Linked DNA regions of Homo sapiens. The protein of the gene in region 1 interacts with the protein of each later gene in a biochemical or structural test. Each region holds a gene or a part of one and is shown in the gene's direction. Other genes may lie near its edges.

Region 1 (7,833 bases):
ATAAAAGAAAGGAAAGGTAAACTCAAAGTTGCTGAGACCAGCTCTGTTGGGGAGACCCTAACCCAGAGGCGCTAGAGGAATTAAAGACACACACACACAAATATAGGGGTGTGAAGTGGGAAATCAGGGGTCTCACAGCCTTCAGAGCTGAGAGCCCCGAACAGAGATTTACCCACATATTTATTAACAGCAAACCAGTCATTAGCATTGTTTCTATAGATACTAAATTAACTAAAAGTATCCCTTATGGGAAATGAAGGGATGGGCCGAATTAATTGCAGCAGGAACACGTCCTTAAGACACAGATCACTCATGCTTTTGTTTGTGGCTTAAGAATGCCTTTAAGCAGTTTTCTGCCCTGGGCGGGCCAGGTGTTCCTTGCCCTCATTCCTGTAAACCCACAACCTTCCAGCTTGGGCGTTAGGACCATTATGGACATGTCGCAGTGCTGCAGAGATTTTGTTTATGGCCAGTCTTGGGGCCAGTTTATGGCTAGATTTTAGGGGGCTTTCTCCCAACACAAAGTAAGTAGAAGAAAAGAAATAATAAGGATAAGATAATCGGTGAAAATAGAGTACCAGAAAATCAGAGAACAGTATCAAAGTTAAAAACTTGTTTTTTGTTTTTTTAAAAAAGAGCAAAATTGATAAACCCCTAGTTAGGCTGATGAAGAAAAGGAAATAACACAAATTACCAATCTGGAATGAGAATGGGGCTATCACTGCAGATGCTACAGACATTAAAAGGCTAATAAGGGAATATCATTACCAATTTTATGCCAATCATCTCAACAAATCAGGTGAAATTAGTGAATTCCTTGCAAAATTTTACTTACTGAAACTGACCAATATAAAATAGAAATTTTGAGTGTCCTATATGTTAGAGAAATTGAATTTATTGTAAAAAATCTTTTCATCAAGAAAATTCGGTCCTGACCAGCACAGTGGTTCATGTCTGTAATTCCAGCACTTTGGGAGGTTGAGGTGGGCAGATTGCTTGAGCCCAGGAGTTCAAGACCAGCCTGGAAACATGACGAAACCTCATCTCTACAGAAAGTAGAAAAATTACCCAGGCATGGTGTTGTGCACCTCTAGTCAGTTCCAGCTACTAGAGAAGCTGAGGTTGGAGGATTGCTTGAGGCCAGGAGAACAAGTCTGCAGTAAGCCGAGGTCATGCCACTACACTCCAGCCTGGGTGACTAAGACCCTGTCTCAAAAAAAAGGAAAACTCTAGGCCAGATGGTTAAATTGATGAGTTGTATCAGACATTTAAGGCAGAAATAAGATGAGTCATAATAAAATTTCAGAAAGTTAAGGAGGTAGGCCAGGCACGGTGGCTCACACTTATAATTCCAGCAATTTCGGATGCTGAGACAGGAGGATCGCTTGAGGTCAGGATTTCAAGACCAGCCTGGCAATATAGGGAGACCCCATCTCTATAAAAATTTTAAAAAATTAGCTGGGTGTGGTGGTGTGTACCTGTAAAGTAGTTCCAGCTACTTGGGAGGCTGAGGTGGGAGGACGGCTTGAGCCCAGGAGTTTGAGGCTGTAGTGAGCTGTGATCACACTGCTGTATTACAGCCTGAGCAACAGAGCAAGACTGTCTCCCACCAAAAAAAAAAAAGTTAAGGAGGCGGGAACACTTTCGAAATACAGTCATGTGGTGCTTAATGACAAAGATACATTCTGAAAAATGTCTTATCATGCAAATTTCATAGAGTGTGCTGCTTACATAGACCTTATAGCCTATACACACATAGGTTGTTTAGTATACTCTATTATTCCTAGGCTACAAACCTGTACAGCATGTTACTATACTGATTAGGTAGTTGTAACACAATGGTAAATATTTGTGTACCTAAACACAGAAAAGATACAGTAAAAATACAGTATTATAATCTTAACAGCACTGCTGCTATATATGCAATCTATTGTTTACTGAAATGTTATGCAGTGCATGACTAATTTTATGAGGCCATCATAACCCTGATAAGAAAACCCAACAAAGACATGTTTTTGTAAAAAAGCAAATTACTGACCAAATATGTGATTAGCATAGATAAAACAATTAATATGTTTTTCAAATCCAACAATGTATAAAAAGGATAATAAAGCATGACCAAGTGGAGTGTATGGAATGCCAGTTTGGTTTAACAGTCATAACTTTATGTTGGCTGGGCATGGTGGCTGAGGCCTGTAATCTCAGCACTTTGGGAGGCCTAGGTGGGGGGATCACTTGAGCCCAGGAGTTCGAGACCAGCCTGGGCAACATAGCAGGACCTCACCTCTTTTGTTATCTCTCACTTCTTTTTATTTAAAAAAAAAATTAAAAAATTTATGTGTGCTTTTATATGATCAGTTAATTAACAAAAGTACAAAGGCAGCTGATCAAAGAAAAAATTATCTTTTTAACAAATGGTGCTGGGACAACTGGATGTCCATATGCAAAAAAGAACCTCAATTCAAACACCTCACCTTATACAAAAGTTAGCTTAAAATGAATCATAGATGTAAACTTCTAAGTACCTCTAGAAGAAAACAGGAATCTTTCTGACCTTGGATTAGGCAAAGATTTCTTAGATAGCACACTAAAAGCGTTATCCATGAAAGGAAAAATTGATTAATTGGACCTTATCAAAATTAAGAACTTATGTTCTTTAAAGACACTATAAAGAGAATAAAAAGACAAACCAGCATATTTTAAAAACTCTTGAACAACCTAAAAAATCCTGTATCTAGGCTGGGAGCGGTGGCTCACGCCTGTTATCCCAGCACTTTGGGAGGCCAAGGTGGGCAGATCATGAGGTCAGGAGATTGAGACTATCCTGGCCAACATGGTGAAACCCCGTCTCTACTAAAATATAAAAAATTAGCGGGCATAGTGGTGCGTGCCTGTAGTCCCAGCTACTCAAGAGGCTGAGGCAGGAGAATCACTTGAACCCAGGAGGCAGAGGTTGCAGTGAGCGGAGATTGCCCCACTGCACTCCAGCCTGGCGACAGAGCAAGACTCCATCTCAAAAAAAAAAACAAAAAACAAACAAAAAAACCCTGTATCTAAACCATCAATTTTTAAAGGAGCGAAAGTTTTGAATAGACACTTTGCCAGAGAAGATAATTGGATAGCAAATATGCACATGAAAAGATGTTGAACATCATTAGTCATTAGGAAAATGCAAATAAAAACCACAGTGAGATGCCACTGCACAATCAATAGATTGACTTTTTAAAAATCAATTGAGAGACATGGAGCAGTTCTAACTGCTCCACATTGCTCATGGGAATGCAGAGTGCCACATTCACTTTGGGAAAGTTTGGCAGATAAAATTAACATGTACTTAATATATAACCCAGCTGTGCCATTTCTAGGAAAATTTATGTTCACAGAGAAACTTGTGTCCAGTTTTTAGTGGCTTCAGGGGTGATGGAACTTGATTTTGGTGGTGGTTAAATGACTGTTCTTTTTTTTAAACACAAAGAACTTAACACTAAAAGTGGTGAATTTTACTATATGTAAGTCATACAATTTTTAATGAAAAAGAATGCTCAGAATCTGAAATAAAATCAGTGTATATGAACAGAATATAGGAGGAAAACTACAACCAATTTAATAGATGTGAAAGGGCATTTGACAAAATTTGTCACCCATTCATAATAAGTCAGCAAACAAGAACTAAAAGGGAATTTCCTAATCTGATAAAGAGTGTCTAGAAAAACACCACAGACATGCTGTCCTCCAGTATTGAGAACAAGACATTCACTCTCACCACTGTTACTCAGCATTGTACTGGAAGTCATTGCCAGGCACAGGTTTGTAGGTTTCAGCCATTTTTGGCTATTTGACGTTGACAAGTTACTTAACCTTTCATGGGTTTTAGTTTCTTCAGGTTAAAAAGACTGGGGGGCGCTGTGGGAAAGAGAGTGATAATCTACCATGCAGGATTGTTGTGAGGGTTCAAGAAGATGTTTAAGCACCTAACATAGTTACTTGTATATGGTAGTCATACAGTAGATTAGATAGTTTTAATTTGTTCAGTGTGTGTGTGTGTGTGTGTGTGTGTGTGTGTCTTCTGTGACGATAGCCTCTTTCCTTAAACTAAATGAACATCTTAGTGAATTTTCCTATTCTGGAGAAGGAAAAGGAAGAAATAGGGGAAAGATAGGCATTTGACTACCTTTCATTTGGATAATTGAAAATTATTAGTTCTCTCCAGTAAGGTAATGGAATATATATAATTACCTGATAATAAAAATTTATTTCTGAAAACAATTCAGAATCTCTCATCTTGTACAGATTGAGTATCCCTTATCCCCAAATCCAAAATGCTCCAAAATCTGAAACTTTTGAGCACCAACATGACACTCAAAGGAAATGTTCATTGGAGCATTTCAGATTTTGGATTTTCAGATTCGGGATGCTCTAACTAGTAAATACATTGCAAATATTCCAAAATCTGAAATCCAAAACACTTTTGGTCCCAAGCATTTCTGATGAGGGATACTCAGCCTTGTAATACTTATGCAGTATTTTGTTGATAGGATTTTAGTAGGAAATAATTATAAGTATGCCAATCAAACACTTAATTTGGTCTTCAAAGCTGGTTACAATAGTACAGTGGCATCTGGACAGAGATGATTTTTTCACAATTTTTTTGTACAGGATATATTGATTTGTCAAAAAGAAGAGTTTCTCCAGAGGAAGCAATCAAATGTGAAGACAAATTCACAAAATCCAAAACTGTAAGTTGATCTTTGAGTCAAATTAGTCCACTATCTGTGTGTTTAATAAATAATTTGAAATCTTAATTTCATACTGCTACTACCTTAAAGTATTGCTTATGATCTAATATTCTCAAATTAGTACTAGAAGTGTTTTGAAGCCGTTTTAGGTTAAATTAACTGTGGGTGACTTCAACTGCTTTAACTTGTTTACAGTTGGAATGCCTCATAAAATACGGGGTTTTTTTGTTTGTTTAAATAGAAATGAGGTCTTTCTATTTTGTCCAGGTTGGTCTCAGACCCTGAGCTTCAAGTGATCCTTGAGCCTCAGCCCTCCAAAGTGCTGGGATTACAGAAGTGAGCCAATGCACTTGGCCAAAATACAGTTCTTGATTTTCAACCCTGTTCTGGGATGAGGGTAACGGAGACAACCAGCTGTTATATGTTAAGAATGAACAGGGGTTTATAAAATGTCTGTGAATCCAGGAAAGCAAGGCAGAGGCCTGTTACTAGTTTTGGTTTTTTTCCCCCTCCACTAGCGTGTTAGGATTATTTCTTTTTGCATTCTTATTTTTGCTATTACTTCCTGCTTGTCATCCACAGTAAGCAGCAGCAAAGCAAAGATAGCCATTTAATTTCTTCTGTCAGTATTTCTCTTTTCTCAGGTCCTGTTTAAGTTATCCTTCATCCTCTACATCCTCAGTTCTGTGTGTGTGTGTGTGTGTGTGTGTGTGTGTGTGTGTGTGTGTGTGTGTGTCACAAAGTCTTTCCCAGACTGGAGTGTAGTGGCGCAATCTCAACTTACTGCAACCACCTCCTCCTGGGCTCAAGCGATCCTCTCGCCTCTGCCTCCCGGAATGTTTGAGATTACAGGCGTAAGCCAGTGTGCCCAGCCTATCCTCAGTTCTTAGTGGTACTGTTTGTATTGCTTCTGTTTTCTTTGCCCTTCTCTGGTGTCTGTTCTTTTCTGCCATGAGTGTTTCTGTCCTCAAGATAAAATATCAAAAAAAAAAAAAAGTTTCAATGAAGAGATTTTAAAAAATCTTGCTTAATCCCAGTAAGAGAGAAAATAAAGGTCTAAAAGCCATCAGTTACCCAAATCATTTCCTTTGTTTTACTGATGTATTTACAGTTATGCAGTGTGGTTTACACATTTGAAAACACTGTCAGTAAAATATCTTCTTAATAAACTCTAGGACCTTACCACTTAGAATGTAGTCTCTAAACTAGCAGCATTGACATCACCTGTTTTTTTAGAAATACAGACTCTCAGGTCCTACTAACTTTTGAGAAGCACTTTTCTGGGAAAATTTCATATTTTTTTGTCTCCTTAGGATATTGTTAAAATGAGTGTGTTAATAGATCTTATTGAGATGTTAAAATGGAAGAGTTATTCAGTGTCAGTACCTTTTCTCACTCAATTTTTATGTGTAACTATGATGAAGACCTTAATACTTTTTGTCTACACCCTGTTAATTTTAGGAGGTAAGAAAAAGTTTGGCAGGTGGGTAAGATGACAGAAAAAAAATTTTTTTTATCGTGATTCTCTCCTCAGGGAGTAATAATAACAACTTGTATTTGTATAGCCGTTTTCCATTTATAGTGTGTGGTTTCTATATATTTGATCTATGCGAGCACTCTGTAGTAAGGAGAGATGCTAGTTTCTTCTTTTTCCAGAGGAGGAAACAAGTTCAGAGATACTGTGTTACTGTCAAGACTTGATCCAGGTCTTAGGACCCTAAATTGTATACTATCTCTACTTTTTATACCCACTTAAAGTGAGTATTTCCCTATGGAGATCTTTTATTGTTAAGGAATTATTGTAGCCAAATTATGTTATTTACTAAAATGTAAAAACATTTTTTATAAATCTCTTATCTTTGAATTGTTGAGCTTTTCATTTTATTTCTAGGTTTATAGCATTCTTCGTCATGTTGCTGAGGTGTTAGAATACACCAAGGATGAGCAGCTGGAAAGCCTATTCCAGAGGACTGCCTGGGTCTTTGATGACAAGTACAAGAGACCTGGATATGGTGCCTATGATGCATTTAAGCATGCAGTCTCGTAAGAATACCTTCTTGACTCTCCTTCTACCTTGATATCACAACTCTTGGCCTGATATTTAACAGCATAGCATCCATGTATAAAATACTTGCCAAATTTAGATTAAAATATTTTGTATTGGCCAGTAAATGGGCCAATCCTATATGGTCAAGTCTGTGTAGTTTTATGTATCATAGTTATGTAGATTCATAAACCATATGGTTTATCTCACACATTTTCCTTTCCTAGTTATTGTCCTAAGTGGCTATGGGACTAAAGAGCATGTCTCACCAAAAACTATAACCTCTTGTTTTCTCTACCTCTTTTGACTCTCCTTTGACTTTCAGCCCACACCACTTTAGCCAGTCTTCCATGTAGCCTTAGCCTGGGCCTTACTATCACCGGGATTTGCTCTGCCACTAAAATCTTTAATTCACACTTTCTGTTCTTTTGCCCCTGCCTCCTATTCATCTAGCTCCCAGTTGGTCCTATTATTTGTCATCTTAATTCTGTATGTTAGGATCTGATTCCAAACCTTTTTTCTCCCTGTCTTTTCGCCATTTCCTGCCTTTTCTCTCTTATCCAACATAGGCACACCATGATACATCATTTTAACGACTTTGTTGCCATTATTGTGAGCTTTTGCCTTGTTTTTCCTTCCATCCATCCAGCCTTGGATCAATGTTCCTGCCTTCTCTGTACTTGTAGACTGCTGGGTGCTACTAGGAAAAATCAGTCTTGCAGGTTGGTCCACTGCATATTCATGGTCTCCAGCCTCAGCTGTTCCACATTCTCTCTGCTCCTGGTCAGTTCTTCAGTAGTGGCTATTTTAGAGCTTTTCCACGTTCTTCCTCAGAAAACCACTCTATCCCTGCTCCCTGCCTCTTGGCTGGTATGCTCACTACCTATTTTATTTTATAAAGAAAATAGAAACCATTGCACAAGAACTACTTTTCCACTGTCTCAACAAACTTACATATCTCTGTCCCACCTGTCATTTCTTCCTATGCTGCTGTCACTGGAATTTGTGTCCTAATTGCTCTCAAACTAGTCTTGCCACCTATGCCCAGCTGCT
Region 2 (7,000 bases), on another chromosome or scaffold:
CTTTTTAAATTTAACATGTCTTGGGATTTAATTCATGGTAGTACATAAGGAACTTCCTGTATCCTTTTTAAAGGCTGCGTAGTGTTCTGTTCTGTAGATGCATTATAATATTTTTGACCAGTCACTTACTGATGGACTTTTAGGTGGTTTCTAACCCTTTGCTATTATAAGCAATGTGCAGTACCTTTTATGTACCTCATTTCACTCATGTATCTGTGGGACACATTCCTAGAAGGTCCTTGCCACATCAGAGGATGTTGATAAGTGAATTGTCAAATTACGTTCTAACAAGATTTCACCGGTTTAAACTCCCACCTGCAATATGTGGCTCTTTTCCTGCACGGTGCACTTCGTCAACATAGTGTTACCAAATTTTTAAATCCTTTTCATTGTTAGGGGAAAAATTGTTTACTTAACCTAGTTTTAATTTGCATTTCTCTTATTTATGCATCTTTTCCTGTGTTTAAGACATATTTCTATTTTTTGTAAATGGTATTCATTTTCTTTCTCCATTTTTTTCCTATTAAGTTGTCTTAATGATTTTGGGGAGCTTTTTATGTATTAGGGAAATTAGCCTCTGTCTGTGATATGAGTTGCAAATAGTTTTTCGCACTCTGTCATTTGTCTTTTTGTTCTTTCTCCTGTGGTCTTTGCTATGAAAGAATTTTAGATTTTTACATAGTTAAATTTGTTACGATTTTCTTATATGCCCTTTGGATTTTGGGTCATAACTGGGAAAGTCTTTCCCACTCTGAGGTTAAAAAGAATTCTCCCATAGTTTAGAATAGTACTTTCATAGTTTCACTTTATTTATTTATTTATTTTTTGAGACTGGGTCTCACTCTGTCGCCCAGGCTGGAGTGCAGTGCTATGATCATGTTTCACTGCAGCCTCAACCTCCCAGGCTCAAGCGATCCTCCTGAGTAGCTGGGACCACAGCTGTGTACCACTATGCCTGGCTAATTTTTTATTTTTTGTAGAGACAGGGTCTCACTTTGTTGCCCGGGCTGGTCTCGAACTCCTGGACTCAAGCAACCCTCCTGCCTCGACCACCCAAAGTGTTGAGATTACAGATGTAAGCTACTGCACCCAGCTCATAGTTTGACTTAAAAAAAAAATTAAATCTTGGCTTCATCTGAAATTTATATTGAAATAAGGGTAGGAGGCTATGGATCCAACTTTATATTTCCCTTGTGATTACCTAGTTGTACCCAAACCATTGATTAATTATACATCTTTTCTCCACTGATTTAAAATGCCACTTTCTTTCCATATACTAAATTCCCATATGTATTTGGGTCTATTCCTAGACATTTGGTTCTGGTCCACTGATCTCCCTGTTCACATGTTGATGCCTCATTGTTTTAGTTGGTATATTTTAAAATCTGGTAGGATTTTTCACTCATAATTAATTTTCTTTTTATAAGTTTCCTTATATGTTGTCTTTTTTAAAAAAAACAAAATGAATGTTAGAATCAATGTGTCTAGTTCAAAGGAAATCCTATTGAGGTTTTTTTTTTTGTTTTTTTTTTTTTTTTTTTGAGACAGAGTCTTGCTCTGTTGCCCTGTTGCCCAGGCTGGAGTGCAGTGGTGCAACCTCTGCCTCCCGGGTTCAAGCGATTCTCCTGCCTCAGCCTCCCGAGTAGCTGGGATTACAGGCGCTCGCCACTACCCTTGGCTAATGTTTGTATTTTTAGTAGAGACGGGGTTTCACCGTGTTGGCCAGGCTGGTCTTGAACTCCTGACCTCAAGTGATCTGCTTAACTTGGTCTCCCAAAGTGCTGGGGTTACAGGCGTGAGCCACCGTGCCCGGCCCTATTGAGTTTTTTAAAATTGGAATCTCATTAAATTAATAGAGTAATTTAAGGAAAAGCTGACATCTTTTTGATGTTGAGTCTTTTATTATTTAATTGACTTTGTGATCCACAGGAACATTTTCTTCATATAGATCTTGCCCACTTTTTGTTGAGTTTATTCTTAGGAGGTGTTTTGTGTTTTTTGTGTCTATTGTAAAGAGATCTTTTATGTTTTCTAGTTGGTTATCATTTGTCTGTGAGAGCTGTTAATAACAAGATGTTAATTACATAGGTATCCCACAGAACCCCTCTTTTTTTAAAAGTTAAGGCAAAATTCACATAACATAAAATTAATCATTTAAAAATATATAGTCCAGTGGTACTCAGTACATCTGCAGTGTTTGTTGTACAACCACTTCTTCTGTCTAGTCCCAAAATATTTTCATCACCCCAAAAGAAAACCTCATATCCATTAAGCAGTGACTCCCAATTCCCCCTCTCCCCTAGCAGTCACCAATCTGCCCTTCTTCTCTATGAATTTGCCTATTCTGGACATTTTATGTAAATGGAATTATATGTGACTTTTTCTTTGTGGCTTCTTTCCCTCAGTATAATGTTTTTGAGAGTCATTCATGGTGTAGCATGTATCAGTACTTCATTCTTTTTTATGGCTGAATAATATTCCATTGTTTGGAGAGATGATTTTTTGTGCACCCATTCATCTGTTAATGAGCATTTAGGTTGTTCCCACCTTTTGGCTATTGAGAATAGTGCTGCTGTGAGTATATGTGTACAGTATTTTTACAAATACCTATTTTCAGTCTTTTTGGATATACCTCGGAGTGGAATTGCTGGGTCATATGATAAACCTAAATTTAACATTTTGAGGAACTGCCAAACGGTTTTCCACAGCAGCTGCACTGTTTTACTTGCCACCGGTAATGTATGAAGGCTCTGCTTTCTCTTCATCCTCTCTGACAAATGTTTTTTTCTTAAATGGTCATCCTAGTTAGTATCTTAAAGTTTTTTTTCGAGACGGAGTCTTGCTCTGTCGCCCAGGCTGGAGTGCAGCGGCACGATCGTGGCTCACTGGCAAGCTCCGCCTCCCGGGTTCACGCCATTCTTCTGCCTCAGCCTCCCGAGTAGCTGGGACTACAGGGACCCACCGCCACGCCCAGCTAAATTTTTGTGTTTTTAGTGGAGACAGGGTTTCATCGTGTTAGCCAGGATGGTCTCGATCTCCTGACCTCGTGATCCACCCACCTCGGCCTCCCAAAGTGCTGGGATTACAGGCATGAGCCACCACGCCCGGCCAGTATCTTAAAGTTTTGAATTGCATTTTCTTAATAGCTAATGACATTGAACATCTTTTCATGTGGTTTTCGGCCATTTGTATATCTTTGGAAAAATGTCTATTCAAGTCTTTTGCCTATTTTTTAATTGGGTTCTGCCTTTTTGAGTTGTAAGAGTTTTTTAATATATTCTAGATGCTAGATTCTTACCCAGGTATATGATTTGCTGTAATTTTTTTGGTTTGCAGTAGTTTTTTGTTGATTCTCTTGTTTCAGTTACAGAATTATATCATCTACAAAGACAGATTACTTTTTTCTTTTTAATTTTATACTTAAAATTTATTTTGGCTAAATACTTTGGCTGTTACCTCCAAAATATTGTTAAGTAATAATGGGGGGAGTGATTATTGTGTTTCTTCCTTTAGTGGGAATGAAGACATCATTCTGTGGATTTACAGTGGTTATTTAACCATATCCATACTATAAAGCCTTTGGGTGGTTTCCAGTTATTCACCACTATAAGTAACACTGTTAGCACTTTTACCTGAATCTTTTCTCTTTTTTTTTTTTTTTTTTTTTTTTTGAGACAAGGTCTAGCTCTGTTGTCCAGGCTGGAATGCAGTGGTGTGATCTCGGCTCACTGCAACCTCCACCTCCTGGGCTCAAGCCATCCTCCCAGCTCAGCCTCCTGAATAGCTGGGACTACAGGTGCATGCCACCATGTCCAAATAATTCTTTTGTATTTTTTTTGTAGAGACGGGATGTCACTTTGTTGCCCAGGCTGGTTTTGAACTCCTGAGGTCAAGTGACCCACCCCCATCAGCCTCCCAAAGTGCTGGGATTACAGGTGTGAGCCACTGCACCAGGCCCATAAATCTTTTCTCTATTTGATATTATTTCCTTTGGCTAAATTTCAAAACTGTGAAACTACCGGCTCAAAGACTCCTGTAACTTTGTCAAATTCTTAGGGTTTAATTTTATAATAGAATGTTTTGTATTAACATTCTGAGGAATATACTGTACATTGCTGGAGTCCACTATATGTTTACATTCAAAAAATAGAACTGTCTTTGCCCATTTACCTATCTCCCTGCATCAATGGGAAGCAGAAGAAGAAGGTGGTTGAGCATCTACAGAGGGATGATTTTAGCTTTTCTGATTTAAGGCCCAGGTTGTAAAGGTCTCATGGATCCCAAGTGAACTGTTGTTTGTGGCTTTAGGATTTGGATTGACAAGTTTCCCTGGGTGTGGTGGTATGTACCTGAGGTTAGATGAGTCATGCTCATCCGTGACTGTCCAGCTGGGACGGGAGCTTCAGTACCTCTAAGCGTGCTGATGATCAAATAAGGCTTGGGAACCAGAGGGAAGTTGTATGTAGGTTTCTTCAAGACCAGCACCGTTTTTGTGCAAAAGTTCACCAGGTGCGAGTATAGAGGATCGTTTTCTGTTAAGCTCACGGCTCTGAAAATCAGCTGAGGTGACTGTGTGCTGTCAGAGGCAGCAGTCATTTGCCAGTGTTGGCATTTAGACATGGGAGTGCGAATGCCTTTCTTACTGAGCAGTTATTCTGTCTTTTGGGCCTTTCTTTTCAATTCCTCTGTTGTGACTCAAAGTACAATGAGTGGATAAAATGGAGCCTAGTCATTGCTGTTCTCTTAAGGTTGTTTCTAGAAGGTTTTCCCCTATATATATGAATTTTTCCAGATTAGAGTGTCTTGTGTTAAAGATTCTGAACATAGTTTGATTCTCAACATAGTTCCCTGATTATTACTTGTTTCCTTTAGTTTCAGATGCTTCATCAAGATGAATCAAATAAAAGAGAAAAGATCAAGACAAAGGGAATGGACTCTGAAGACGACCTGAGAGATGAAGTAGAGGATGCTGTCCAGAAAGTTTGTAATGCAACTGGATGTTCAGTTAGTATTTCTGTCTTGCAGGAATGATTTAGAAGCAAGCATTGCTGTGCCTAGCTTACTTCTTAGTTTCGTAGCACCTCTCTAGCATATCAGCACCTTGTGGGCCAAAATAGGCCCATGAGATTTGTAGTTTGATTAGTGTATGTGGCTTAATGAGAGCTGTTTATTAATTTCCCTGTTGTTTGCTAGACTTCACCCAGTACTGCTCAAAGGTCTTAGGAAGTATGTGGATTTAATTTTTCCTGACTAGTGTTTACAGTAGTACAAATGCAGTTTTATAGAGGGAATTCATTTATAAGTGTACATTAGACGGTTATTTCAAGGGACCAACCTTATTGGAAATCGACATTTTTCTAAATGGAAAAGGTCCTGAAACCTTGTGTTAATTCTCACTATTACATCTTTATGTTTATGATTATTGAAGTAGAGCTAGGCAGAAAAATATACCCAGAGTTTTGAAGTGGTTTTTTTGTTTGTTTGTTTCTTGGATAGGATTTTAATTTAATAGTCCAGAACCTGGAAGCTGAAAATTATAATATTGAATCTGCAATAATTGCCGTGCTTCGGATGAACCAAGGGAAGAGAAATAGTAAGTCCATGACTAATATTTATAGATCTTCAAAATGGTTGTGTTGGTAATTTTCCAAATATTTATTTTTTAACCAAGTCACAGGTGGTAACTGTTCTGTCATTCATTTAGGAGTTGTTTATTGAGCACGTTCTGTACGTAGACATTTTTTACTAGGTCCTGTCTCTGCTTCAGGGGGAGTATAGTTCAGGGGTAGAGGGTGGATAGTGGAGACAGATAAACTGGTGCGATAGTACATAATGGGGTTGGGAGTACAGGGTGCTGGGGGACGCATCAGGGAAGAATTAGCCTGTTTAGAAATAAGATGGCCTTAGAAGACCAAAATGATAACCAAAATAAAATGGAGAGAGAAATACCTTGTTTTTCTGGTGGAAATATTTAGATTTGTATTAGCTTGTGATAATTTTGATTTTTTTTTTTTAATTTGAACCAAGTATAATTTTGTGACTCAGAGGAAAGAAAAGAGATGTAACGGCTGGGTGTGGTGGCTCACACCTGTAATCCCAGCACTTTGGGAGGCTGAGGCAGGTGGATCACGAGGTCAGGAGTTTGAGACCAGCCTGACGAACATGGTGAAACCCCGTCTCTACTAAAAATACAAAAATTAGCTGGGTGTGGTGGCGGGTGCCTGTAATCCCAGCTACTCAGGAGGCTGAGGCAGGAGAATTGCTTGAACCTGGGAGGTGGTGGTTACAGTGAGCTAAGATCGCACCATTGCACTCCAGCCTGGGCAACAGAGCGAGACTCCCTCTCAAAAAAAAGAGAAAAGGATGTAACATCTTATTAATTTCTCAAGTCATTTATTTAAAATGATATCAATAAATACTGATTGCCAGATGTTACGTGTCAGATACTGTTTCTGGCATCATAGTGCTCCATGTGATGAGGTATTTTATTATCCACTATGTATTGGCTGTACTTTTAGAAATCTGTAAGTAACTTGGTCTTTGTGACTTTAAACAGCACCCTCCAGTGATCTGTGCTGTTCAGTATAGTGTGTACCTGCCACATGAGCAATGAGACTGGAGAGCTACGTTTTAAATGTTGTTTAATTTTAATTTAAATGTAAATGGCCACATATAGCTGGTGGCTAATACATTGGACAGCACAGCTTTAGAGCCTGTTTCTTTTCTGGGTTTTGGGTGCAAATGAAAGATTTTCCCATAAAAATTCATGTTAAGACATAATTTATCTAAAAAGCACTCTGCTGGTTGGAAGCTGATCAAAAGGCTGGTCAGTGGGTTATTTTAGAATTTATCTTCCAACTTTTACCAACTTTTTCTTCCTATGTTTCCCACTGTCTTGACATTCGAATTTGTCTCAAGGAAACTTACTTCCCTTATGACTGAAGTAGGGACCCAGGTAATTTTGGAATCATTAATACAGTCATCACCCTGTGTAACTCTC
Region 3 (7,874 bases), on another chromosome or scaffold:
TTAAAAGATGTTCAAAATCACTAGTCGTCAGGGATATGCAAACCAAAGCTACAATGAAATGGCATCACATACCTACTAGAATAGTTAGAATTAAAAAGACAATTACCAAATGTTGGTGAGGATATAGAACAACTTGAACTCTCGTGCACCACTGGTGGGGGTATAAAATGGTACATCACTTTGTGAAAATGCTTGGCAGATTCTTATAAAGTTAAACATCCATCTACTATATGAGCGAGTTATTCCACATCTAGGTATTTACCCAAGAGAAATAAAAACCTACATCTACAAAAAGACCTGTACGTACATAAATGTTCTCATAGTAGCTTTATGTGTAATCGCCAAAAATTGAAAATATACCAAATGTACTCCAACAAGTAAATGGATAAAGAAACATGGAACATATAAAGCAGAGTACTACTCAGCAGTAAAAAGGAACTAAGTATTGCTACATTCAACAACATGAATAAATTTAAAAACATTATATGGAGTGAAAAAAGTAAGACACAAAAGTACATACTGTATGACTGCATTTATTAAAGATGCTAGAATATGCAGACTAATCTATTGTGATGGAAAACAGATCAGCGGTTACCTAGGGGCCTCGTGTAGGAGGGATTGACCACAAAGGGACACAAAGAATCTCTTGGAGTGATGGGAATGTTCTGTATCTTGACTGTGGTATATACATCTGTCAAAACTCATCCAAATGTATATTTCCAATAGGTTCAGTTTATTGTACATGTATTATACTTCAAGAAAACTGATTACACATTCTTCCTTTCATCCTCACTAGCAGAATCCTCATTTTGCTTAGCAGCAGCATGGTCTGGCCTGGGAAATGTCAGTGAAAATTCCTTGGTGGTGCTTCCTGGAGAGCTCTTTGATAGGGGCAAATTCAGGTGGTTACATGCCTTTTGTCATTCCTCTTTGTCCTACCTATAATAAAGAAATGATACTGGAGTTGCCATCCCAAAACAGTGAGACGACAGGCAAAAGGAACAAAGTCACCCATGAAGCATGGAGAAACAGAAGGAGCATAAGTTTAAATAAAACATCACTGTAGAGCTGTGGTGTCAGTAAAAAAAAAAAACCCACTTCTTGCTTCACCCACTATATGGCAACGTTTTTGTTATTCACAATCAAATATCATTTCAACAGATGCAGTCTCTCTCTGTTAAGGGATTGAACTCACTGTTTCTAAATCTCAGACCTATTTTGCTGATTTTTTGGGCCACACTCAGTTGTAGAATCTTGGTTGTTTTGGGCAACCCTGGCTCAGGGTACCTGAGCACCAGCTTCTTTTCCTGGCCCAGCCTCACGGGCCAGCTCTCATGCCCGGTCCCCACTTTCTTACATTTCCCTGAGGCACCCAGGTTCCAGAGTTCCCACAAAGTCACTGTGAAGCTCCATGCTGTCCTAAAGCAGGTAGACTCTCTTTTCTCTCCTTAATTTATTTTCCCAGTCAGCACACTTCGACTCAGGCTTTTTTTCCAAAATGGAAAATTTGTGTTTTGTTCCCAAGTATAAAGCTTGACTCTCCTTACTGGCATTTTCCACCACTGTGCTCTTCTGCCCGCGCCTTTTTCATCATAGCACTTATCTCAGTTTTAATAATATATGTGTGATTGTTAATGTCTGTCTCCCTAACTAGATAGGTGTTAACCTTCAGAAGGGCGGGAACCACATCTATTTTGTTCATATCTTTATTCTCATTATTTGCAGGTGGTCATGTGGAATCCCTGAATGTTAAATGAATAAATAAAACTTCCACAGTATTTACAGGTGGCAAGTAGACTCCTAATTCATTAGTTCAGATTAATAGCCTTGTTCATGCCATGATCATTTTTTGAAAAAATTACAAAACCATGAAGACCAGGCCCACTAAAATATATACACTAATTTCAAACAGGTAGTTAACAATCATTTTTCATCTTATGTTAATTTTCTGACACCTTCCTCATACCAACTAGTATAATCCCTTTTAGGTGGGCAATTTTATCTCCTATTTTGTTGAGTAGATAATGGTCAATTGGTTTGAGTTCGCTCATCTATTTTCTCTACTTTTCAAAATAACTTACTCTCTAGGAATACCTCCTACGCTCTACTTTCAACATGGAAGGCAGAGCTGCCCCTTTTCCTCCAGATACTCTGGAATCTTGCTCTCGTAATCAACCCCCTCTGTCTACAGCAACTGCAGTCTCTTCCTTTCCAGTTGTCTCTTTCCTTCTGTCCTCAGGTATTCATTCATTCATTCATTCATTCAACAAACATTTATTAAATGCTTGCTAAACACTTTGCACTGTTTTATGTCTTCGAATACATCAATGAGCAAATCTTCACAGAATTTACATGCAAGTGGAAGGAAACACAGCAGACAATAAACAAAACAAATATGTAAATTACAGTATTTACATATTTGTAATGTATGTATCGGCTAAGCAGAAATAAAGCAGGAGAGAAATAAAGGAAGGAAGGTGGTGGAGGTTTTAATTTTAAATAAGGTAGTGAGGAGGGACTTCACTGGGATTAGCAAAGCCTCAAATAAAGTGAGGGAACATATCTTGTGGGTACCTGGGTATTATGTGCTAAATTGTGTCCCTCCAAAATTTACATGTTGAAGTCCCAACCTTTAGTGCTTCAGAATATAACTATACTGTATTTGGAGATAAGATCTTTAAAGCAGTGATTAAGTTAAAATGAGGCTGTTAAAGGTAGCCCCACACTCCAATCTGACTGGTGTTAGAAGAATAGGAAGAGACATCAGAGGGAAGAGGAAGTAAGAGGGCTGTCATCGGCAAGCCAAGGAGAGAGGCCTCAGAATCCCACCTTGATCTTGGACTTCTAGCCTCCAGAACTTCGAGAAAATAAACTAGTTTTGTTCAGGCCACCTGGTCTGTGGTATTTGTTAGGGCAACTCTAGCAAACTCATATACCTGGGAAGTTTCCTAGGCAGGCAAAACAACAAAGGAAAACCCCCCAGGTGGGTCTTGATTGGCCCAGTGGAGTGAGCAAAGACAGTATGAAATGAGATCAGAAAAGCCATAGGAACCAGATGCTGTAGCACCCTGTAGTCTATTTTAAGGACTTGACTTTTATCCTGAGTGAACTGGGGGACCTTTTGAGGGTTACGACCAGCACTATGGAGAAGCAAGAAGACCGGTGAAAGGTGTTCTAGACAGGAAAAACTTGAGTTGCTGGATCAAATACAGCTGATAAAACAAAGATTATCCTTTGAATACAGCACTGGTGGCCTCAGCGAGAGCAGTTTTGGTGGTGTGAATGCCTGACTGTAGTGTACTTGGGAATGGGAGAAGAGGAATTGAAGATAAGGAATTTTGAACACTTGAGTTTTGCCATACAGAGGAGCAAAGACACGTGGTAGGAGCTGGAAGGGGAAGAGAGGTTTCTTGTTTGTTTTGGGCTGGGGAGAGATTAGAGCATGTTTTTAGCAGATGAAGGATAATCTAGGTATACCCATATTGCCAACACCTTAACAAATCTTCACCGGTTTTGGACCAGGTGCGGTGGCTAATGCCCGTAAATTGCAGCACTTTGGGAGGCTGAGGCGGGAGGATGGCTTGAGGCCAGGAATTTGAGACCAACCTGGGCAACACAGAAACCCCATCTTTACAAAACAAAATTAAAAATTGGCCTGGCATGGTGGCACGCATCTGTAGTCCCAGCTACTCCGGAAGCTGAGGAAGGAAGATCGCTTGAACGCAGGAATTCAAGGTTATAGAGAACTATGGTCAAGCCACTGCACTCCAGCCTGGGCAAAAGAGCAAGACCCTCTCTCTAAAAAAAAAATTTTTTTTAATGTTCACTGGTTTTGATGCGGGTAATAGCCTCCCGGCCAGTCTCCTCCTCGTTGATGCTGTCACTGCTGAAGATGCATTTTCTTATCACTTCACTCATCTGCTCAAAAATCTTCAGGAAGTCTTGACTTGCAGCATTAAAAGTTCAAATGCCTTGGCTGAACATTCCAGTCTTCTCCACTCTGCCCTTTTGCAATTTCATCACTGTCTTTGGTGAGGTACAAAGCGTGCCAGGTCAGAGTCAGAAGACATGAATTAAAGTCATGATTCTGTGACCAACCAGCTACGTGATCTTAGGCTAACTACGTCAGTGCACTGGGCCGGGGCTCCTTCCCGTTCCTAAGGAGGCGGGAGGCGTGTCGGGCAGACTGGATTGTCACAGGTCACTGCCATCTCTAACAAGCGGACTTCTGAGCCCCGTTGCGGCCACAAGTAGGACCATCTCCTGCATCCTCCTTACCCTTCTACTTCTAGGGACCACACGGCTTCTGTGGCCACTTCTTGCTGCTTCGCTTTTGCCTTCCTAAGTAGACTAGGCTTTAGAAGAGCTACAATACCAGCTCCTTTAAGGTCGACCTCCTCCCGGTCACAAGGCACTTGCCTCCCACTCTTCACTTGGGACAGTCCTCTTCACAGTCAGAATCCGCCACGTAGTAAGTGCCGCTTCCAACCAATCAAGAGGCAGTTAGCGCAGACCTTTGAGGGACATCCACTTCCACCAATGATCTTCAAGTCTTCTCCAGCGCCTCGCTTTGTGGGGCGAGGCCAACCACCGCGATGGCCAATCTGTTGTAGGAAAGGTATTCCGGGAACTGATGAGCGCACCAATCAGGTAAAAAGACGTCGGGGAAGGGCATTTCTCATTGGTAATTGCGTCCGGAAGAGGGACGGGCCTCGAACGACGAAATTACGATTTGATTGGTAGGTGCGATGTTGACCACCAGGGAAAGTCCACCTTCCCCAACAAGGCCAGCCTGGGAACATGGAGTGGCAGCGGCCGCAGCCAATGAGAGAGCAAACGCGCGGAAAGTTTGCTCAATGGGCGATGTCCGAGATAGGCTGTCACTCAGGTGGCAGCGGCAGAGGCCGGGCTGAGACGTGGCCAGGGGAACACGGCTGGCTGTCCAGGCCGTCGGGGCGGCAGTAGGGTCCCTAGCACGTCCTTGCCTTCTTGGGAGCTCCAAGCGGCGGGAGAGGCAGGCGTCAGTGGCTGCGCCTCCATGCCTGCGCGCGGGGCGGGACGCTGATGGAGCGCGCCATCAGCCCGGGGCTGCTGGTACGGGCGCTGCTGCTGCTGCTGCTGCTGCTGGGGCTCGCGGCAAGGACGGTGGCCGCGGGGCGCGCCCGTGGCCTCCCAGCGCCGACGGCGGAGGCGGCGTTCGGCCTCGGGGCGGCCGCTGCTCCCACCTCAGCGACGCGAGTACCGGCGGCGGGCGCCGTGGCTGCGGCCGAGGTGACTGTGGAGGACGCTGAGGCGCTGCCGGCAGCCGCGGGAGAGCAGGAGCCTCGGGGTCCGGAACCAGACGATGAGACAGAGTTGCGACCGCGCGGCAGGTGAGGGGCTGCCGACCCGGGGGAGGCAACTTGTTTACGCGCGCGAGCCGCGGAGGATGCGGTGTAGGGGGGCGGAGATCCGGGACCCGGGCGGGCGTCTTCCCTCGGCTGCGGAGGGCAGCTGGCGACCTGGGGACGAGCGCGGGGCCACGACGCCCTCCCATCCCCCGGCCAGCGACCTGCCTGGGCTCGGCTCCCGAGGGCCTGGTGCTGGCCGACGGGTCAGAGCAGCATCCTCGCAGGTGCGGGAGAATGGAATTCCAGGGTTGCAAAGAAACGCCACTTCCCCTCTTTCATTGTTTTCGGGCATTGATTCTCTTCCAAGGAACCTTTCCCTCTTTTTCCTTACGCACATCACCTCCTGTCTGTGCTGGCGTGACAGCTGTTTTGAGAAAGGACTTTAGCAAAAGACGTCTGCATTTTCTTTCAAACACAACTCTGTAGTGCCCCCGGACAAGGATTGAGATCAGTGTCTAATTGAGATCTGCGGAACACCTGCATCCGAATCACCTGGGGTTGCTGGTGAAATCTACAGTTTTCTAGGCCCTACCCCAGTTTTACTGAATGAGACATTCCCTGGGTAAGAGCCTGGCATCTGCGTGTTTAACAAGCACGCCGGATAATTCTTGCACGCTAAAGTTTAAGAGCTATAGTCAGATTCTTGAATATTGGTTCTTGAACCTAAGAGCCATGGTTAGGTTCTTGAATAAGGGGTTTACTGTATAAACATTTAATATAGGGTTTTCTTTGAGTTTCTCAGCATTCAAAAAATGTTACTTCAAGGTGATTGTTTTAAAGCACTTTTCAAAGTCTAGACACAATGTAAGGCATGTTAACAGTAAATTTGGGGGACAGCCAATCTTATCACACCCGTGGAGAAAGTGATGTCCCATTTTATAAATGGAGTGCTAAAGGGAGCATTAAGTAAATTAAACTAGGGAAGGCTGGGCTCTGGATTGGAACATATTTTAGACTTATAGTCATTACTAGATCGTAACAAGTTAGATTTAATTTTAAATTAATATTAGAACTTTGATCTATATATCTGGAGACTACTATAAATAGGATAAGTACTAAAATTCTCTAGGCACCATTTGAATATATAAACATTTGTAAATATATATATATAAAACAAAGTTTTCTTAGGTTTGCTAATGAGTCAGTTTTCCTGGAAGAGTGTTTTTGTTTATCATAAATTTCTGAAGCTCCTGCTCAAAATGAATTACATGAAGTAGAGTTGAGACGTTTTCTTTTTCTTAGAATTCAAATCCACTTCAACAGGTACTTACTGGTTAACAAGAGCCCAAGGATGCCCTGGGTGGCAGAGGTTAGGCAGGTAGTTCCTGCCTTCCAGGAGAGTGTGCAGTCTAACAGTACGGATGAAACGAGAAGACCTATAACAACATTACAGACTAGAAACAGTGCCAGTGTCAGGGATGTCCCAAGGTTTTTGTGGTGTTCTACTAGGTGAGGTATGGGAGTGAGGGTAGGTAAGAAGATAAGAGAAGGTTGTGGCAGAATGAGTTGGTTCCTGAAAAATGGGTAAAATTGTAATGGAAAGTCACTGGACTTGAGGAAACAGCAAGAGGCACAGAGGCCGGAGATTATGTTTGGAAAACATTTTGTCTCTGTGTATGTCTGTGTGTGTGTGTGTGTGTGTGTGTGTGTGTGTGTGTGTGTGTACGTAAGCGATATAGACATGCACATATGTATGCTAGGCAGGGAGAAGTAGATGAGGATAGAAAAAATAGGTTAGAGCCGACTGTATATGCATATAGTCTGATGCTAATAGCATCATTGTCACTTGGGAGTATGTTAAAACTCCGGAGTGGGGCACCACCCCACACTCCCTGAATGAGAGTATCTGCATTTTAACAAGATCACCGTGTGATTCACATGCACGTTAAAGTTTGAGAAATGTTGGGTAGAGTATCCTGAGTGCCAGGCTTGATCAAAATTACACCTAAGGAATGTTTCTCTAGCAATAGTGTGTACTGAAAACTTGAGTTAAGAATACCAAAAGGAGAGTGTTATAGCAGTTCAGATGAGAGGTTTAGTGTAAAGTGGTATAGGACAGAGGGGACAGAGTTGAGATATTTGATGCAAAATCTAGGTTCCTGGCAAGTGAATGCATTCTTCCTTTCTTGGTACCCTTGTCCAGAGATTGAGACTGCGTGGCCAGAAGTTGACAAAAGAGGTTTAAGGGAGCAGGGAAGAAAAGGTAAGGGGTTTGGTGTTGGACATGTGACTCGGAGGTGCAGGCAGGACATCCAGAGGGAGGTAGGCGGGTGGAAATGAGTGACTAGAGCCAGTGAGAAGGCAGCATAAATATGAATAGGTGAAGCTGTGGGAAAGGGAAAGCTCATGAGAAAACCTCAGGAAATGCCTTTTATTTTAGGGAGGAAGATGAGCCAGCAAAGGAGACAGAAATACAGCTGGCTAGGTTGGAGGTACAGGAGGAGGACTGGGAAGAAAGATTTGGCGATGAGCACACTTAAAGAG

What was found. Proteins that work in one complex are often made in the same cells at the same time.
Region 2: the proteins of EIF2S1 (region 1) and OTUD3 form a complex in vitro, tested with the Homo sapiens proteins (one study listed by BioGRID).
Region 3: of the proteins of EIF2S1 (region 1) and EIF2AK3, one has a biochemical effect on the other in vitro, tested with the Homo sapiens proteins (one study listed by BioGRID).

Annotation. Positions count from the first base shown.
Region 1 is NC_000014.9:67,369,812-67,377,644, forward strand, and holds part of EIF2S1 (eukaryotic translation initiation factor 2 subunit 1), read left to right. Parts: intron 1-4,656; coding exon 4,657-4,736; intron 4,737-6,627; coding exon 6,628-6,779; intron 6,780-7,833. UniProt on the Homo sapiens protein: Member of the eIF2 complex that functions in the early steps of protein synthesis by forming a ternary complex with GTP and initiator tRNA. This complex binds to a 40S ribosomal subunit, followed by mRNA binding to form a 43S pre-initiation complex (43S PIC).
Region 2 is NC_000001.11:19,899,395-19,906,394, forward strand, and holds part of OTUD3 (OTU domain-containing protein 3), read left to right. Parts: intron 1-4,872; coding exon 4,873-5,004; intron 5,005-5,496; coding exon 5,497-5,593; intron 5,594-7,000.
Region 3 is NC_000002.12:88,624,465-88,632,338, reverse strand, and holds the start of EIF2AK3 (eukaryotic translation initiation factor 2-alpha kinase 3 isoform 1 precursor), read left to right. Parts: upstream 1-4,874; 5' UTR 4,875-5,064; coding exon 5,065-5,372; intron 5,373-7,409; exon of another isoform or gene 7,410-7,593; intron 7,594-7,874. UniProt on the Homo sapiens protein: Metabolic-stress sensing protein kinase that phosphorylates the alpha subunit of eukaryotic translation initiation factor 2 (EIF2S1/eIF-2-alpha) in response to various stress, such as unfolded protein response (UPR).